2 separate regions of the Homo sapiens genome follow, and region 1 is linked to region 2. Evidence: fine-mapped expression QTL. A gene starts in region 2. The other region holds a variant in brackets. All regions are shown on one strand. Distances are between the middles of the regions.

Region 1 (8,676 bases), 25 kb before region 2:
GACCCTCAGGCCCCTCCACCCCGTTCTCCTCAGATGACCCCGTCCCAAGGATAGAGGGCCCCTTCAGTTTCCTCTGGCAGTGAAAGGGTTACTGTCACAGAGCCCCTACGCTGTGCCTCGCTGCTGGGGGATTCACAGGGAGGGAGGCGTCCATATCTGCAGCTTGAAGGGGTGGAAACAGGCTCTGAGCAACTCAGGTAGCCCAAGGAGAGCAGCACAGAGCAGAGCAGGTGTGTGTGTCCCCAAGCCTGGCGGCCCCCCTCTGTAGAGTGAGGCCAGGGTGGGCACAGCAGGGGCACTGGGCTTCCCTCCCCAGGGCTGGGCTGCCCACCTGCACCGGGTAGAAGATGGCCTGCAGCATGGGCAGCACGTCACTGAAGAAGAAGTCCCAGGTCTCTGCCAGTGAGTCCAGCAGCTTCTGTCCTGTGGGCATGGGGGCCATCACCACTGGGCCTGACTGGCGCGGGCAGATGCCTCCACTCACCCAGGATGGGTCATCAGAGGATGCGGGAGTGGAGGGCCTGGGCTCAGGCCCCTGGCAGCACCTGCCCAAGGTCGATGTCCAGCTCCACAGCTCAGCTGTTCTATGGCCCTGGGCCCACTGCTTAACCTCAGTCTTCCATTTATAAAATGTGGCAGTAAAGGGATTGGCCTCCCAGAGCTGAGGGCATGAAATGAGCCTAAGGCACAGGGAACTTGGCTCAGGGTCTGCTCCTGGCAGATGACAGCTGCCAATTCCCAGGCCTTTGTCACATACCAGACCCACACAAGTGAGAGCCACACAGGTATACACCTGGCACAGGTGAGACGTTCACAGGTGAGACCCCTACACGTACGCCTGACACAGGTGAGACCCGCACAGGTAGGTACACTCGGCACAGGTGAGACCTGCATCAGGAGACCTGCACAGGTAAGACCCACACAGGTACACCTGGCACAGGTGAGACCTACACAGGTGAGACCCACGCAGGTATGCCTGGCACAAGTGAGACCCACACAGGTGTGCCTGGCACAGCAGTTTCAACTCACATCCTAGTCTCATCAGATCCTCCTAACAACCCGGCTAAGCAGTTGATTTCTTCTACCCACCGACCTCCTCCCTCCTTCCCCCACACTATCTGCCCCTCCAACAAACACAGAACACCTACTGTGTGCTGGCGCTGATGCTGGGCACTGGGGACCCAGCTGAGCCCCAAACAGCTGCCCATCCATCACATGACAGGGAAGTGGGACACTGAGCAGGATCATAAGGGCAGTAGCCAGGGGTGATCGACCCCCCACCAAGCAGACAGAGGCTGAGCCTCCGAGGAAAGGGTGCACCACAGTCAGTGGCCCAGAGGACCCAGGGCCAGGCCAGCTCTGCCTGTGGTCAGGTCTGGGGATCCACGGAGACCCCTTCCAATAGCAGCACCACGTCGAAGGAAGAAGAGGGTGCAGAGGGTCAGGCAGGGAGGGCTTCCTGGAGGAAGAGCATCCAAGCTGGCTATAGGAGCTGGGCTTGCCAGACGTAGTGGTATGGGGACACATCTTGACAGGTGAGTCTCTGAAACAGATACGTAGGTAGCAGACATCGGGACCAGCTCTGTAGGATTTCTGCTGGCCTTGAGAGGAACGGTGCCATGCACCAGGTGAGTGACCCTTGTGGGACGGGGACAGCTGCCCAAGCTGGCTCTGGGTTCCAGTGGGAGAGGCAACGTGAAGAACCCTTGGCCTTTCTGCCTGGACTGAGCGGAGCTGGGATGAGGGCTGCTGGGTCCAGGGATGCACAGTCCAAGGACGTGTCCCCAAGGCCTCTGCTGTCCCCTGGAAGCCAGACGAACAACTGGCGAGAGAGATCTTGGTGTGGGCGCCTCTGAGTGAAGAGGGAAGCGTTGCCGGCTGTCTCTCAGGCTGCGCCCCCGGCCAGAACTGCTTTGAGGTTTCCATGGGAATGCGGAGGCTGAACAGGGACCTTTGCCTTTTTCTCACTCTCTGGGCCCTGCCCCCACTCCCGGAAGCCCCCAGCTTCATGTAGGTTCGAGGGCACTAGGAGTGGGACCCCGCCAGGGGCAGCCCTGGGGGCTGGGGCCGAGCTGGACTGGGTCCCATCTTTGGCTCCCAGCCCAGTGGCCAGCCCTCTGCCCACCCGGGTAGCCCAAACCTGGCTCTGAGGGTGATGGGGGCCAGCAGGAATGCCCCGGACGGATGGATGCTCACCGCCCCGCCGAACTGTGCCCACACACAAAGTCCCTTCAGTCCCCCTCCGCCGCGGCAGGAAGAAAGGCAGCTCAGTTCCCGGGCTGGCCGGGGGGTGGCTCTGGGCACCGGCCAGGCCTGCGTTCTGCTCAGCGCAGGCTGTTCTCCAGCCCACGGGGCGGAAATGCTGCGGAAAGCAGATGTTGTAAAACAGAATCCAGGCCCCAGCTGGAGCCACACGGTGACGAGAGGCCAGGAAGGGCAGCCTCGCGGCTGTTGGGGCTCTCTGCCGGGGCCTGTCCTGTGGGGGCCCCTCTGTGGGGCAGTAGGGTTAGTCGGAGGCAGGTATGGGGCGACCCCAGGAAGTTCCTCCAGGCGGACTCAGTGGCATCCTCTATGAAAGGGGCGTGATACACGTCCCCACGTGGGCAGGTCGAAAGCTGAGATGAAACAGCACTGGGCGTTTGCTGCCGGCAGGACGGGGCCGGGTGTGTGCGCGCCGTACCTTGGCTCCAGCCTGGCAGTAGCAGGGGCTGATGCAGGCGAGCGGCCCCGCAGTAGCCTTGGCTCCGTGCTGGCTCCCACTCTGGGGTTCTCGCTGTGGGCGCAGGCTGGTGTCCGTCTTTCCTTTCTTTATCCGAGTGCTGAGGGCCCTGTGCAGGCCCTGCAAACCAACAACCCTGTTTCAGCCCGTCGGGAGACTCAGGAACAGTGAGGAGCGCAGGGCAGTGACAAAAGCCACGCGCTGGGTGGACCAGGTCAAGGGTGTCTGGCGCGGGGACGGCCGAGGCACAGGCATGGAGGCAAGCGTGTAAGGCAGCACAGCTGGGTCACGTGACCCATACCGGGTTTGGATTCCCTGGTGGATGAGCGACGGCAGATCCCAGGGCCCAGCAGAGGACCAGGAGCTCCCGCCCAGAGTTCCCAAGTTTCTGGCTTCCAAGGAGTTGCTTGGCTGCAGCTGGAGCCGATTCCCTTAAGCCACACACAGGCCATCAAACTACAACCCCGGCCGCGGTCCAGTCTTCCTCCCCTTCCTAGGGAGGCAGCCCTCCACCTCAAGGCCACTCCTCCAGGCTCTCCGCTTCCAGGACCGGCTCTGCCCAGGGGCTGAAGTCCAAGGCCTCCCTGGAGGCTGAGAAGGGGCAGGGGGCAAGGTCCTGGGGCTTCCCCACAGGGGGCCATCACCCACCTCTGGTAGAGGCTCTGTAGGGACAGCTGCAAGGAGCAGGCTCAAAGTGAAGAGCTCCCAGTGGAACCCAAGCAGGGGTAGGGAGCAGGAAGGGGGAGGCCCCTGAGGCCGCCCATCAGGATGTGGAGGTGGCTATGTCCCCACTGCATGGGGCCAAAAGGGACCACAAGTTCCCCTGAACAGACCACACTTTGAGGCCCTACTCAAGGGCCACTGCCTCCATGCAGCCCTCTCTGACTGCCAAGGTGGAATGAACCCTTTCTTCCCCAGGACACTCCTTCACAATGACATTAATCACACTCAACTGTCACCCTCGGGTCCGTGTCTGTGTCCCCAATTGGGCTGTGAGTCCCTGAAGGGCAGGGCCAGGTTCTCCTCCATCTCTGGGCTCCCAGAGGTCACCTGGGCCTGACATGTAGAGAACACTCAAGTGGACAGAGCCTGTTCAACCCCACATTGCTAAGACAGGGGTGCTGAGGCTGGAGAGGAAACCCTGTGTCTGCAGCTACATGGGAACTGGAGGCCAGGGCCTCAGACTCCCAGCGTAGAGCCCAGTGCCTGTCCCTGAGACCTGGGGAGGCCAGGAAGGGCTGGCGAGGCAGAAGAGGATGCTGGGCCTCCCAGGGCTGTCCTCTGCCCCTTCTGCTGGGCAGGCACCCCTGCTGGGAGGCCTGGCAGACCTGGCTGTCCCACGCAGAGCTCCTTTCAAGCCACACAAAACTCCCTTCTCCGAGAGCCCCGGCTCCCCTAGGCCAGATCTGGTGGGAGGTACAGGCACCGCCAGAATGTGCCGCATCAAGCGAGGGGCGTGGGTGGCCATCTTC[G/C]TCAGGTGCCAAATGCTCACAGCTCTGTCCTGCCAGTCTAGATGTTGCCTCCTCCAGGAAGCCTTCCCAGAACCCCCATGTCTCCCCGACGGTCTGATGGTTTTCATGGCCTCTCTTTGTGTTCCTGTCTTGGCTGGCCCCACCCAACATGTTCAGTGGACGTGAGGAAGGACCATGACACGCAGCTCCAAGGTCCCCTGGAACATGCCAGGCCTCCGGGCCTGTGTCCTTCTCTGTGGAGTGGGCTAGTAGCTCTTTTTCCCAGGGTCAGAGGGAGACCTGGAGGAGGAGCCTGGGGCAGCAGAGTGAAGAGTATGGGTTCGGGACCCGGTGGCCTGCTTGGCACCCTGGCCTTGCCACGGTGCAGCTGTGTGGCCTGGGCAGGACACCGTGCCTCACTTTCCCCATTCATTCAGTGCTAACAACGGTGGCTTCTTCACAGGGTTGTGGAAATCAAATGAGTTAGTAGATGTGAAACACTCGGGGCAGTCCAGCACGGAGGGACGCACACACCCGGTGCCTAGTGCACAGGTGCTCAACACACGGGTACAGCGCAGGCCCGATCCCAGCACAGCCCGAGCAAAGCAGCATCCGTGGGAACTGAGTGGACCCCCTCACCTGACCCCGCTCCCAGGGCAGCTCGCTCCTGCAAGGATGCGCACGCTGCTGCTGCTGCCCGAGGCTCTCGGCCACGGGAAGCCCAACCTGCACAGTGAGGCCAGCGGGGACCTCCGGGCCGTGAGAAGGGCAAAGGGTGTGTGCCCTAAAGTCAGGCAGACCTGGGTTTGAGTCCCGCCCCCACCCCTGATGTGCACTGTAGCCTTGGGCAAATCACTTATCATCACTGTACTCTCCCACTCAGGAACAATAACCTGAAGGTCCCAGTGGGTGGCTGTGAGCCTCGACAGAGAAAATTCAGCTGAGTCCCCCACCCTGTCCCCTCCTCTGTGAGTATCGGTGACCTCAGCCCTAACCGACTTCTCCTCTGACCCCCAAAGACCAGGACAGGGGCTCTCCCAGGCTGCGGGGACAGAGCTCACTAGGGCCAGAAAGTCCCGTGGGCAGGGAGGGGAAGCAGGGGGCTTTTCCCCGATGTCTCATAGCCCTCCTGGGCTCCAGCAAGTTCGGGGGGCAGACCCTCTCCCAGGGTTCCCTCTGGGTAAGGATCTCGGCCCTGCTGCCCTAAGGCTATACGTGTTCCTTCCAAGCCCTCCGGACCAGAGAGCCACACCTTGCACCCAGAGGCCCCCAGCACGAGGCCCAGCAGTCCAGCAGCCAGCCAGGACCCAGCATGGCCCAGAGTGGCCGCCAAGGGGCCCACACTCACCCTCATAGAAGCGAATCTTGTCCCGAAGGATCACCATGCCTTTTGTCAGCAGCTGGTTCTGAAGGTAAACACAGAGGGGCTGTCACCGCCCTTGTGGATGCCCGGGGGTGTCCTGGCCAGCAGGGCCCCCGAGAGTCCATCCACCAGTGAGCAGCCAAGGCTTAAAGGGGGAGGAGACTCACTGAGGTCCCACAGTCCACCTGCTGCAGGGCCTGAGCATCAGTTCATCCAGGAGGGTAACTGACCCAACCCCGGGTTGTCACGAGACAGGAGGTGGTCACACGGACATCCCGAGAGGTGGGCAGGGCCTAGAGCTCCTTGCACTGGGCTCAGCTGGGCAGGCAGAAGCCTGGCATGTCCCACAGTGAAGAAAGGACTTTGCATCAAGAGGTGACTCTGATTACCAAAGGCCGGGCCCGTCAGCTGCCATCCTACCTCAGGGACCCTGGACGCACTGCCTGGGGTGGCTCGGCCAAGAACCACGCTGTGTGGTCTCAGCAACCCAAGCACCCGCCAATGAAAGCATGGACCACAAAATGCAGCCCATCTCCACACAAAGAAATGAAGCACTGGCTTGTGCTCCAATGAGAAAGAACCTGATGCTAAGAGAAAGAGTCCAGACAAAAGTCCGCAGGCCGTGTTATGCCACCAATATGAAATGTACAGAATTGGTCGGGCGCGGTGGCTCACGCCTGTAATCCCAGCACTTTGGGAGGCTGAGGCGGGCAGATCACCTCGAGGTCAGGAGTTTGAGACCAGCCTGGCCAACATGGTGAAATCCTGTCTCTACAAAAATACAAAAATTAGCTGGGCAAGATGGTGGGTACCTGTAATCCCAGCTCCTGGGGAGGCTGAAACAGGGGAATCGCTTGAACCCGGGAGGCAGAGGTTGCAGTGAGCTGAGATCGCGCCACTGCACTCCAGCCTGGACAACAGAGCAAGACTCCATCTCAACAACAACAACAACAACAACAAAACAAAAGACAAAAAACAAAAATTAGCCAGGCGTGATGGTGGGCACCTGTAATCCCAGCTAATCAGGAGGCTAAGGTGTGAGAATCACTTGAAGCCAGGAGGTGGAGGTTGCGGTGAGCTGGGATCACGCCATTGCACTCCAGCCTGGATGACAGAGTGAGACTATCTCAAAAAAGAATTCACCTCATCTTATCATTTAACCTCCACAACATTCCACGTGGCTAGATAAGGAACGAGGCAGGTCCTTGGAACTGCAGGCAGACAGTGGGGGAGCCGGCGCTCCACACCCCCGGGGGCAGGTGAGCCCCTGTGCTTTCTGGCTGGCTCATGAGGCAGGCCCAGCCTGGCTGGAGCAAGACCCACCTACCTGCAGGTACTCCGTGAAGAAGGACCCCAGCTCTGTCTTCAACAGCTGCCTGTGGGTGGGAGGTGAGACAAGAGTGAGTCCCAGACCACACGGCACTGGCATGGGGGACCCACGGACTGGGGTGGGGCCTCCTGGGCAGGGGGAGATCAGCATGCTCAGCCAGCCCAAAAACATGGGTAGTGGACAGGTCCCACCTGTCCAGACCTGCAGGGGCTGGGTCGGCCACACAACCGGGGCCTCCATGGTCCGCAGTGGCAGCTCATCAACTAGATCCCTGCACTCATGTCATAGCAGAGGAAGCCAAGGGGTCCTCAGAGGGAAGACAGTGGCCTCTGCGTCTCACACCTTCTGGAGAGACACCTGGCAGGGCTGGGCCTGCAACACTTGGTTTGCTCCTGCCTTCCACCTGTCCAAATCCCGGATGCCACGGGCTCCTCCTCTCTCCGCCTGCAGAGCTTCTTCCCAAGTGTTTACTCTTTATTCCAGAGAAGCTCATTCAGTCTTCACCAACCCAGCCGCAGGCATTCACCGGGGTTCCCCTTTTATTACAGGGGAGGCAAGAGAGGCTCGCAGAGGTCAAGACACCAGACCAGGTCCACATGGGACACGCCAGAGCTGAGATCTGAACCTCCACCTTGGCACTCAACACTGACAATTCCTCCTTCCCTCCCTACATACCTCCAGGGCCTGAGAGAATGGGAGCACCACATTCCACACCAGCCAGGCTGAAAGTACACAGGCACTGTCAGCGCTGAGGCCCCAGATATGACCTCCCAACAGTCTTCTGAACCAAATACATCAGAAATCTTACTTTTTAGGTTGCTATTCCCTTTAGGAAAACTTTTTTTTTTTCTTTTTGAGACGAAGTTTTGCTTTGTCACCCAGGCTGGAGTACAGTGGCACAATCTCAACCTAGAGGTTGCGGTGAACCCGGGTTCAAGCGATTCTCCTGCCTCAGCCTCCTGAGTAGCTGGGACTACAGGCATGCGCCACCAGGCCGAGTTAATTTTTGTATTTTTAGTAGAGACGGGGTTTCACCATGTTGGCCAGGCTGGTCTCGAACTCCTGACCTCAAGTGATCCACCCGCCTTGGCCTCCCAAAGTGTTGGGATTACAGGTATGAGCCACCACACCCGGCCTAGGAAAACTTTCTAATCAGTCCTGAATTATAGGCAGTCCTCTCTTTGCATGGTTCTGATACATACAAGTTTCAGTTATCCTGGTTAAGTACAAGCTCTGCTGCCCGCTCTCCAGTCCACAAATCAAAATGTAGATAACAGATGTGTACAATGATCACTGACCAATTGCAACACTTCTTTCAAAGTCAGTCTCTGATTGGTCCCTAAGTATCTGTCAGCAGTTCATGCACAGACAGCAAATTGTGACCTGTGTTGCCTCCTTGTCTGCCAGTGTGAAACCCATGTGGCATTCTGTAAAAATGGATACAAGAAAAAGCAACTGGCCAACACAGATGGAAGTGCAGCACATCAATGAAAAATGATCATGTTCTGAACGGGCAAACACTGCTCAAAGTACTATGTTCCCACTGTTTTATTTTTTATTTTTATTTTTGGAGATGGAATCTCACTCTGTCACCCAGGCTGGAGTGCAGTGGTGCGATCTTGGCTCACTGCAACCTCCACCTCCCAGGTTCAAGTGAATCTCCTGCCTCAGCCTCCCCAGTAGCTGGGATTACAGGCGCATACCATCACGCCCAGCTAATTTTTGTATTTTTAGTAGAGACAGGGTTTCACCATGTTGGCCAGGCTGGTCTCAAACTCCTGACCTGAGGTGATCCACCTGCCTCGGACTCCCA
Region 2 (8,676 bases):
GAGGTCAGAAGTTCGAGATCAGCCTGGGCAACATGGCGAAACCCTATCTCCACCAAAAATACAAAAAAAAAAATTAGCCGGTGTGATGGCACACACCTGTAGCTACTTGGGAGACTGAGGTGGGAGGATCGCTGGAGCCTGGGAAGTCAAGGCTGCCTGAGCCATGATTGTGCCACTGTACTCCAGCCCGGGTGACAGAGCAAGACCCTCTCTCAAAAGAGAAAAACCAAACATTTCCTGCACACCTACAGAATCAACATCCATGGAGGAAAGAATGGAAGGCAGACCCCAGCGAAATGCTCAGCACTCCAGGGCCCCTGGTTTGCTTTCCTCCCAGCACTAAGCCCACCTGCATTTACTTACCTCCTTGTTTATTTACCAATGCCTCCCTCTGGGAACTCTAAGCTCCAGGAGGCTGTTCTCTGCTGAATCTATGCCCTGAGCAGCCCAGTGCTGGCACAGTCAATGAATGAATGAATAAACGAATGAATGAATGAATCAATCAATCAATCAATGACTCAGTTCTCATGACAGAGCAAGCCTTACACTTGATGGAAATAGGGTCTTTGCAGCGGTATTTAATTAAGGACCTGGAGATGATCCTTAACTAAGGATGGGCCCTAAATCCAATAACTAGTGTTTTTACAAGAGAAAGGGGAGGGAGCCTGGTGTGGTGGCTCATGCCTGTAATCCCAGCACTTCCGGAGGCTGAGGCAGGCGGATCACCAGAGGTCAGGAGTTTGAGAGTAGCCTGGCCAACACGGTGAAACCCTGTCTCTACTAAAAATACAAAAATTAGCTGGGCATGGTGGCATGGTAGTGGGCGCCTACAATCCCAGCTACTTGGGAGGCTGAAGCAGGAGAATTGCTTGAACCTGTGGGGGCGGAGAATGCAATGAGCTGAGATTGCACCACTGCACTCCAGCCTGGGTGACAGAGTGAGACTCCACCTCAAAAACAAAAACAAAAATTAGCTGGGCATGGTGGTGCACGCCTGTAATCCCAGCTATTAGGGAGGCTGCGACAGGAGAATCACTTGAACCCGGGAGGTGGAGGTTGCAGTGAGCTGAGATTGCACCAGTGCACTCCAGCCTGGGTGACAGAGCAAGATTCCGTCTCAAAAGAAAACAAAAAAGAGGCTGGGCACGGTGGCTCACACCTGTAATCCCAGCACTTTGGGAGGCCGAGGTGGGCAGATCACCTGAGGTCAGGAGTTAGAGACTAGCCTGACCAACATGGCAAAACCCCGTCTCTACTAAAAGTACAAAAAATTAGCCGGGCGTGGTGGTGGGCGCCTGTAATCCCAGCTACTCCAGAGGCTGAGGAAGGAGAATTGCTTGAACCCAGGAGGCAGAAGCTGCAGTGAGCTGAGATCACACCATTGCACTCCAGCCTGGACAAGAGTGAAACTCCGTCTCAAGAAAGGAAAAAAAATAGAGAGAGAGAAAGGAGAGGGAGATTTGGACGTGGAAATGAAAGCCATGGGGAGGTACATATTGGAGTGATGCAGCCACAAGCCAAAGAGCCACCAGAAGCTTCAAGAAGCTCCTCCCCTAGAGCCTCTGGTGGGAGCGACACCTGGACTTCAAGCTTCTGGCTCCAGAACTGTGAGGGAACAAATTTCTGCTGTTTTAGGCCACCGAGTTTGTGGTCTTTGTTACAGCAGCTCTGGGAAGCTAATACAGTCACACAGATAAAAGGGGGTGTGTCTTGGACTCATAATGAGGAGTACACGGCCAGGCCCTGCAGAATGACACGCCTGTCCCCGACCCTGCACAGATCTGTTGTCCTAGGGGGCCCTGGCAGGGAGCACCGCTAGGAGCAGGAGCATGCAGACAGGGACCAGAAGGGGTGCCCTGCTCCCTGCAGTTTCCACTCAGGGACTTGGCTGGTGAAGCCAGTTTGCCTTCTCTTGGCTCCATCTCCCACATCTGCTGGGGAGGAGAGCTGGGGCGCAGGCTCTGCTGCATCCTGTGCAGGTGATGGATGAGCTGGGCATGTCTCCTGGGTGCTCTCTCTGCCCTTCTGCATCTCTCGGTGGGGGGTGCTGGTAATACCTCGCTGGGCTAGGAGAGTGGCAAAGTCAGTTAAGGGCAGTGAACGGGGCTGGCCTGGGGCCTGGCACATAAGAGGAGTGCAGGAAATGGCCGTGCCCCTGCTGCCTGGGGTGGTGGGAGCTGATGTAGGCCTAAGGGCTGGGAGACCTGGAGCCCTGCAGGTGCCGCGGGGAGGGGCTGGCATTTCTCTGCAATCTGCCAGGCTGCTGAGTGAAATCTGGTGGGGCGGGGGTTGCTCAGGCAGAGTCCCCCTGAGGCCTCCCTGAACTCTGAGAAGACACTTGAGACTCAGAGCCCACTCCAGGGTCACCCAAGGTTGGGTGAGGGCAGTGTCTAAGCCAGCAACCAGCCAGTGCCCCCACCTGTCTGGGGACCCGCAGCAGGACGCCCCACCTCGGGGGTGGGAGGGAGCTCACCAAGTGGCTGTCAGTGGGTGCTCAGGAACTGACTGATTCCTGTGGAGCCCTCCAAATGCCATCCCTACAGGGACACCCCGACACTGGTCCACTGCGTGAGTCTGGGGTTGAGCTGTGAGGTACAGAGGACTTACTATGTGCTAAGCACTGTGTTGAGGGCTTTATTTTGCATGTTCAAATTTCATCCCTACAACAGCCCCATGAGGTGGGCACTGTTATCTGCCCGTTTTATGGATAAGGAAATTGAGGACCTGACTTGCTCAAGACCACAGAGTAGGGAAGAGGCAGAGTTGGGATTTGAAATAAGTCTATTTAACTCTTTCCTCTAAATCACGGCAGAGATTCAAGGACAGAGAGATGGCTTTCATCTCAATACTGGAGGAGAACACTGCTCTTCTTTTTTTTTGAGATAGGGTCTTGCTCTGTCACCGAGGCTGGAGTGCAGTGGTGGCATCATGGCTCATGGCAGCCTCGACTTCCCTGGCTCAAGTAATCCTCCCATCTTGGCCTCCCAAAGTGCTAGGATTACAGGTGTGAGCCGCCGTGCCTGGTGGAGAACACAGCTCTTAAGACACTGTGCAGTCGTTGGGTCAGGGAGATTTCCCAACAGGAGTCCTTCCTTCACTGTTCCCACACCAGCCCTCCCCACAGGGAGGAATGCGAATACCCACTGACGGAGAGGGAAACGGAGGCAGGCATGTGACAGCCCTCTAGCAGTTTGCAACTCAGAGACAGAAGAGACCACGTTTGAAGAGGGTCTCGCTGGCAGCCCTGAGCCCACCATGACGCTCACAATGCATTCAATGAACTGAAAATAACGTGTGTCCAAGTGACAGCCGGGTTCCCGGTGGCCAAGACCACAGCCGGTGGAGCATCTGGCAAGATTTTACTGCCAGGTGTGGGCGCGAGAGGGGCAACGTCCACAGCCTCCCCCGAACAGTGTCCACAGCCTCCCCCGAACAGTGTCCACTGCCTCCCGCGAACAGCCTGCCTCACTTTCTCCTGCCTCTCATTTTCCTAGGGAGCAGAGACGCTGGGGAGTTCCACTAAATAAACCGTCTCTTTTCCAGATCCCGGACTTGCTCCTCAAACAAAGCTGGGAGAAGGGGCTTCCCAGGCCCCTGCTTGTCTGGGAATGACCCCTGGAGGAGAGTCCTCTAAAGAATGCCTCGCAGCTGCCGCACCCCCTGCTGACAGCTGGAGGACAGGGGGCCTCTCAAGGGAAAGCCGAAGGGAGCTTAAAGAGACACAGGAAGCCTGCGCGACCCACCCACTGAGCCCCGAGGCTCCCGTGCTCAGCCGCAAAATGGGAAAAATACTTCCTGCTCCGTTAGCCTCCCAGGTTGTCACGAGCACCGCAGTGGAGACGTGGAAAGACCCCGGGTAGGAGGCGGGCACGCGGCTTCCCGGCCCACCCCGCCGCCCACCCGCCGGGCGCTTCTGGGCCAGCCCCGGGCGCTGGCGGGCCTCGCTCCCTTCCCTGGGTTCTGGAACCACGCTGCACTGAACTTTCCTCCAGGCCCGCACCACTCCGGCGGGGCAAGTTCTTTGCAAACTGTGAAGCGCCGCGCCGCCTTCGGCAGCGTTCCTGGCTCGGGGCGGCCCCTAGCCCGCGGACGGCTCAGGGGTCCCCTCCCCCGGCTCCAGGGCCTCCGGGTGGCCGGGAGGGCGCGGCCTTACCTGTTCCAGGTGGCGTTGGCGCAGGCCCGGCGCTGCTGCGTGCCCCGCTCGTCCGCGGCGGCGGCCGGCTCTCTCTTGCCCAGGTCACTGAGGCTGGGCGAACTCATGAACTTCAACCTGCGGAGAGTCCTCATGGTGACCCGGGCCGCCTGCGCCGCGCCCACGCGCGCCCCACGCCGCGCCCTGCGCCACGCCGCACCAAGGGCCCCGGGCCGGCGATGCGCCCTCTACGCGGAAACTCCGGCGAGAGCAGGAAGCCGAGCGGTCCTGCGGGGTCCCGCCCCGGCCCCGCGCCTCCGTCTCGGGTCCCGCGCCGGCCGCCCCGCCGGGTTAATCATTGCACGGAGAGGCTCAGCGTGGAGCGCCAGGCGCGCGGCCAGCACAGACCCGGCGCAAACGGAGGCCGGGGGCGGACCCGGGGGCGGGCCCAGGGGCGGGTCTCGGCGCCCCGGGGGGCGGGGCGGGGAAGGGGGCGGGGGCATCGCGGGCGGGGCGGGGCCTCAGGCGAGGGGGCGTGTGCAAGAGGCGGAGCCGGCGTCTCCGCGGCCGCAGCTGCCACGACGCCTCGCTGGGTCTGCCCTCTGAGGACGTGCTCACCCTCCTCCCCTCTTCCGAGGGCCCCACGTGCCCACAGGAAACCAACACGCACAGGACGCAGGGCCCAAGCCCAAGCGCCCGCCCCCCGCCCAGCACTGCGGTCGCGCCCACACGATGTCCTTCGACCCCGGCCCCGGAGGTCTCCCTCCACAGCCCTCCTCGCAAAGGCTGTGCCACAGAGGTGCCTCCGTACCCCTCACCTGAACACAGGCTCCCCCACCCAGTTCTCATGAGGACTTTGGGTAGAGGCCTTCAGTCCCCTCCAGGCACCTTGGCCCAAGAACCCACTCCACCCGGGCTCAGCCTAGACCCCCTTGGACAGGGACTTCAGCATTGCCTGGCTGCCTGGAGGATTTGCTGGAGTGAGGGCTTGAAGAAGTAGAGGGTTTGCTCCTTATCTCCCACCCCCAGGTCTCTTGGATGGTAAAACCAAGCAGTTTCCCAAGTCCCTGTGGTGGGGGCAGAGTGATCCCAGTGAAGGCAGGGCACAGCCGGTGCTTCCTGCCTGCTTCGCAGAGCACTTTTAGATGTCTGATTTCACATGAACTAACATGAACTACTTCCGTGAGGTAGAGATTATTCTTCTCCCCATTTTCCAGTTGAGGACATTGAGGCTCACAGAGTGAAATAACTTGCCCAACATTGTGCCAACATTGTGCAATCAACAAATGGTAGAGTTGGGCTTCACCACAGGGAGCGTCCAGCCCCTTGAACAGGGCCCTTCCCAGTCCCCAGCTTCTGGGATTCCCACAAGGCTCACCTGACCCCTCCATCAGATGGGGGGTGACAGCCACAGCTCCAGGAGCTGGGAGGGCCCCATATAAAATGTAAGAGAGAGGTGATGGCTCATGCCTGTAATCCCAGCACTTTGGGAGGCCGAGGTGGGAGGATCACCTGAGGTCAGGAGTTCAAGACCAGCCCGGCCAACATGGAGAAACCCCATCTCTATTAAAAATACAAAATTAGCTGGGCGTGGTGGTGCATGCCCGTAATCCCAGCTACTCAGGAGGCTGAGACAGGAGAATCGCTTGAACCTGGGAGGCAGAGGTTGCAGAGAGCTGAGATCTCGCCACTGCACTCCAGCCTGGGCAACAACAGCAAAACTCCGTCTCAAAAATCATCATCATCATAATAAAATAAAATAAAAAGTAAGAGAGCCTCATGAAGAGTCTTTGTTTAGTGCAAATCAACCAGTGTCTCCTGAGTACCTCCTGTGTTCCAGACATAAATACCATCGTCTTTGGGAGACAGAGACATAAACAGACAAACTTGCTCATCAGTAAAGCGGGATGGAACGGTTCATCTCACAGGCAGCTTGGGGCCCACAGGCAGCAACAGGTGCTTTATAAACTAACTGTCAAGTGCTGTACACGTTTTCTTTTCTTTTTGAGACAGAGTCTCACTTTTTGGCCCAGGTTGAATGCAGTGGCACCACTGTGGTCACTGCAGCCTCTACCTCCTGGGTTCAAGCAACCCTCCCACGTTAGCCTCCTGAATAGCTGGGACTACAAGGCATGTGCCACCATGCCTGGCTGATTTTTTGCGTGTGTGATGGCGTTTCGCTCTTGTCGCCTGTGGAGTGCAATGGCGCAATCATGGCTCACTGCTAACCTCTGCCTCCCAGGTTCAAGTGATTCTCCTGCCTCAATCTAGTGAGTAGCTGAGATTATAGGCACCTACCACCACGCCTGGCTGATTTTTTTATTTATTAGTAGAGATGGGGTTTCACCATGTTGGCCAGGCTGGTCTTAAACTCCTGACCTCAGGTGATCCTCCCACCTCGGCCTCCTAAAGTGCTGGGATTACAAGAATGAACCACTGTGCCCGGCTCCCTGGCTAATTTTTAAAAAATTTTGTAATAGAGACAAGGTCTTGCTATGTTGCCCAGGCTGGTCTCAAACTTCTGGACTCAAGGAGTCCTCCCACTTTTGGCCACCCATAGTGTTAGGATTACAGGCATGAACTACTGTGCCTAGCCCACGCTCTCAAACTTACGGGAACACTGTATCTTTTAGATCCCAAACCAAATTTCATGGCCAGACAAGGATTTCCTACCTTACTGCTGTAAAAAAAAAAACAAAAACAACAACAAAAAACATATAAAAATACTAAAGCATGTACTGAATTGTCTCTGAAAAGAATGAAAACAGAGGATAAAGCCCAGATCCTTGACTCCTCGGAGGGGCCTTTGAGACCTGCTTGCCCTCCAGCTGCGGGTCCCTCCCCTGCCCTAGAACGTCTTTCAGAGAAGTTAGTTGCCCCTGTCTCTGACCGCCTTCACTCTCAATTAGGCTCAGGGGGCGTCCTGTTGTCACCCGATGACTTTTTTTCCATCCTATGCCATAAGCCAGGAGGGCAAGAACCGTAACAACTTGTTCACTGCTACAGTCCCCGTGCCTAGCACAGACTGGGTGCTTCATAGATATTTGGTTTAACGGATGGATGAACATTTATCTCATAAGAATAAAGGGATTACATTGGACCCCACTGGTGAAAATGCCTCATAAAAGTGCCCAGGCTGGACAGATGTGAGCGAGAATCTCCGTCATGGCCACTGGTGTAAACGCAGCAAAGCAGAACCGCCAGGGATCCGGATGGGATGAAATGGTTTCCCACGCCGGAGGCTGGCTCTCAGGAGAGGACTGGCTTTGTGGGCTCAGCACAGCCTGGTCCCAAGCTTGCTGACCACAGGCAGGGCCTGGCTGGCAGGAGGGGCCAGCTCCAGAGAGGGAGGGAGGCCTGACTGCTTGGGATAAGAAATCAGAGAGAAATGGGCAGCCCGAGGTGGGAGGCAGGAGGAGGGAAACAGGGGGCTGGGAATGCTGTAGGCATCTGGGAGAAGCGGCCAGCCAGAAATTCCGGAGGTGGGGATGGCTGAGGAATTTTAAAGAGATCTTTAAAAAAGGCATCTCTAGTCAGCGTTAAGGAATTAGCTATAACCTCTCCCTGGCCCCAGCCACAGATGTGTAAAATCTGTCTACACCCAACAGCCCAGCGCCAGGAGGGCAGTGGAGGCTCAAGCAAAGGTGCTAGTGCTCTGGGTTTGGGCCGTGACAGGCAGAGAGGGCACAGCTGCGGGGCTGCCCCGGGGCCAGAAACCCCAGGCAGAGGCCACAAGGGGACAGAGCTGTCACAAACCCTCAGAGCAGGGGGCAACTGGGGGACAAAGGGCGGAGTCTAGCCCCTAAGTGTGCTCTGTGTGGCCTGCAGCGTCGGAGGAAAATAAACCAAACTGCGTGCGGCCAACATCTTACAACATTTTACAACGGAGAGATTGACACAGAAACCCGGATTCTGGCCGCCCTGAAGCATCAGGTGACAGTCTTGCTGGGCCTGAGCCCCACGTGACAGCTCCCACCCGGCTACTGCCCCTGCCAGCAGGCACAAGGCCTCCAGGTGCCCACCGGGCCCTCCTCTCACTTATGGGGCTTTCTGGGTCTGAGGAGGGGGCTGGGGGACCCAGCAATTGTATTGTGGCGGGGTACCCTGGGCAGGGCTCATTTGTGTCTGAGACCAGGGAAGGGAAATGTCCCTCTGTTAAGGAAATGAGAGACAAAGGGACTCAGTCACACATCCCCAAAGCCACCAGAGTGGCCCCCACTCCAGACTCATTCACACATCCCCAAAGCCACCAGAGCCACCTCTGCTCCAGACTCATTCACACAACCCCAAAGCCACCAGAGCCACCCCTGCTCCAGACTCATTCACACATCCCCAAAGCCACCAGAGTGGCCCCTGCTCCAGGAAGGTGCCAGGCCCGATGGCATCAACCACGTCCTCTCCTCCCCAGGACCCAAACTCATTCCAAACTCCCCCTGGCCAGTGGGGTGTCGGCAGCTGGTAGAGGATCCCCTTGGTCACCAAGGGGGACCCTGATATCCTCAGAACTACCCTTCTGAAGGGCCTGCAATCCCTAAGCCTGGCTC

The links. PIP is the estimated chance that this variant, and not a neighbour inherited with it, causes the effect.
Region 1: its variant is fine-mapped to the expression of PRR5 in whole blood (TOPMed, PIP above 0.99).

The regions. Positions count from the first base shown.
Region 1 is chr22:44,723,477-44,732,152 of GRCh38, reverse strand. It overlaps PRR5 (proline rich 5), which reads right to left. Exons shown (of 8, transcript NM_181333.4): 3 at 6,861-6,909; 4 at 5,519-5,576; 5 at 332-423. It overlaps PRR5-ARHGAP8 (PRR5-ARHGAP8 readthrough), which reads right to left. Exons shown (of 15, transcript NM_181334.6): 3 at 6,861-6,909; 4 at 5,519-5,576. Among named protein-coding and RNA genes, the nearest start is that of ARHGAP8, 25 kb to the left of the region's middle. RefSeq lists enhancers at 6,967-7,468, 8,050-8,344. The variant G/C (reference allele first, on the strand shown) is at 4,192.
Region 2 is chr22:44,698,086-44,706,761 of GRCh38, reverse strand. It overlaps PRR5 (proline rich 5), which reads right to left and starts at 4,558. Exons shown (of 8, transcript NM_181333.4): 1 at 4,154-4,558. The coding sequence starts at 4,287. PRR5-ARHGAP8 (PRR5-ARHGAP8 readthrough) reads right to left here and starts at 4,558. Exons shown (of 15, transcript NM_181334.6): 1 at 4,154-4,558. The coding sequence starts at 4,287. RefSeq lists a silencer at 4,275-4,684 and an enhancer at 6,933-7,473.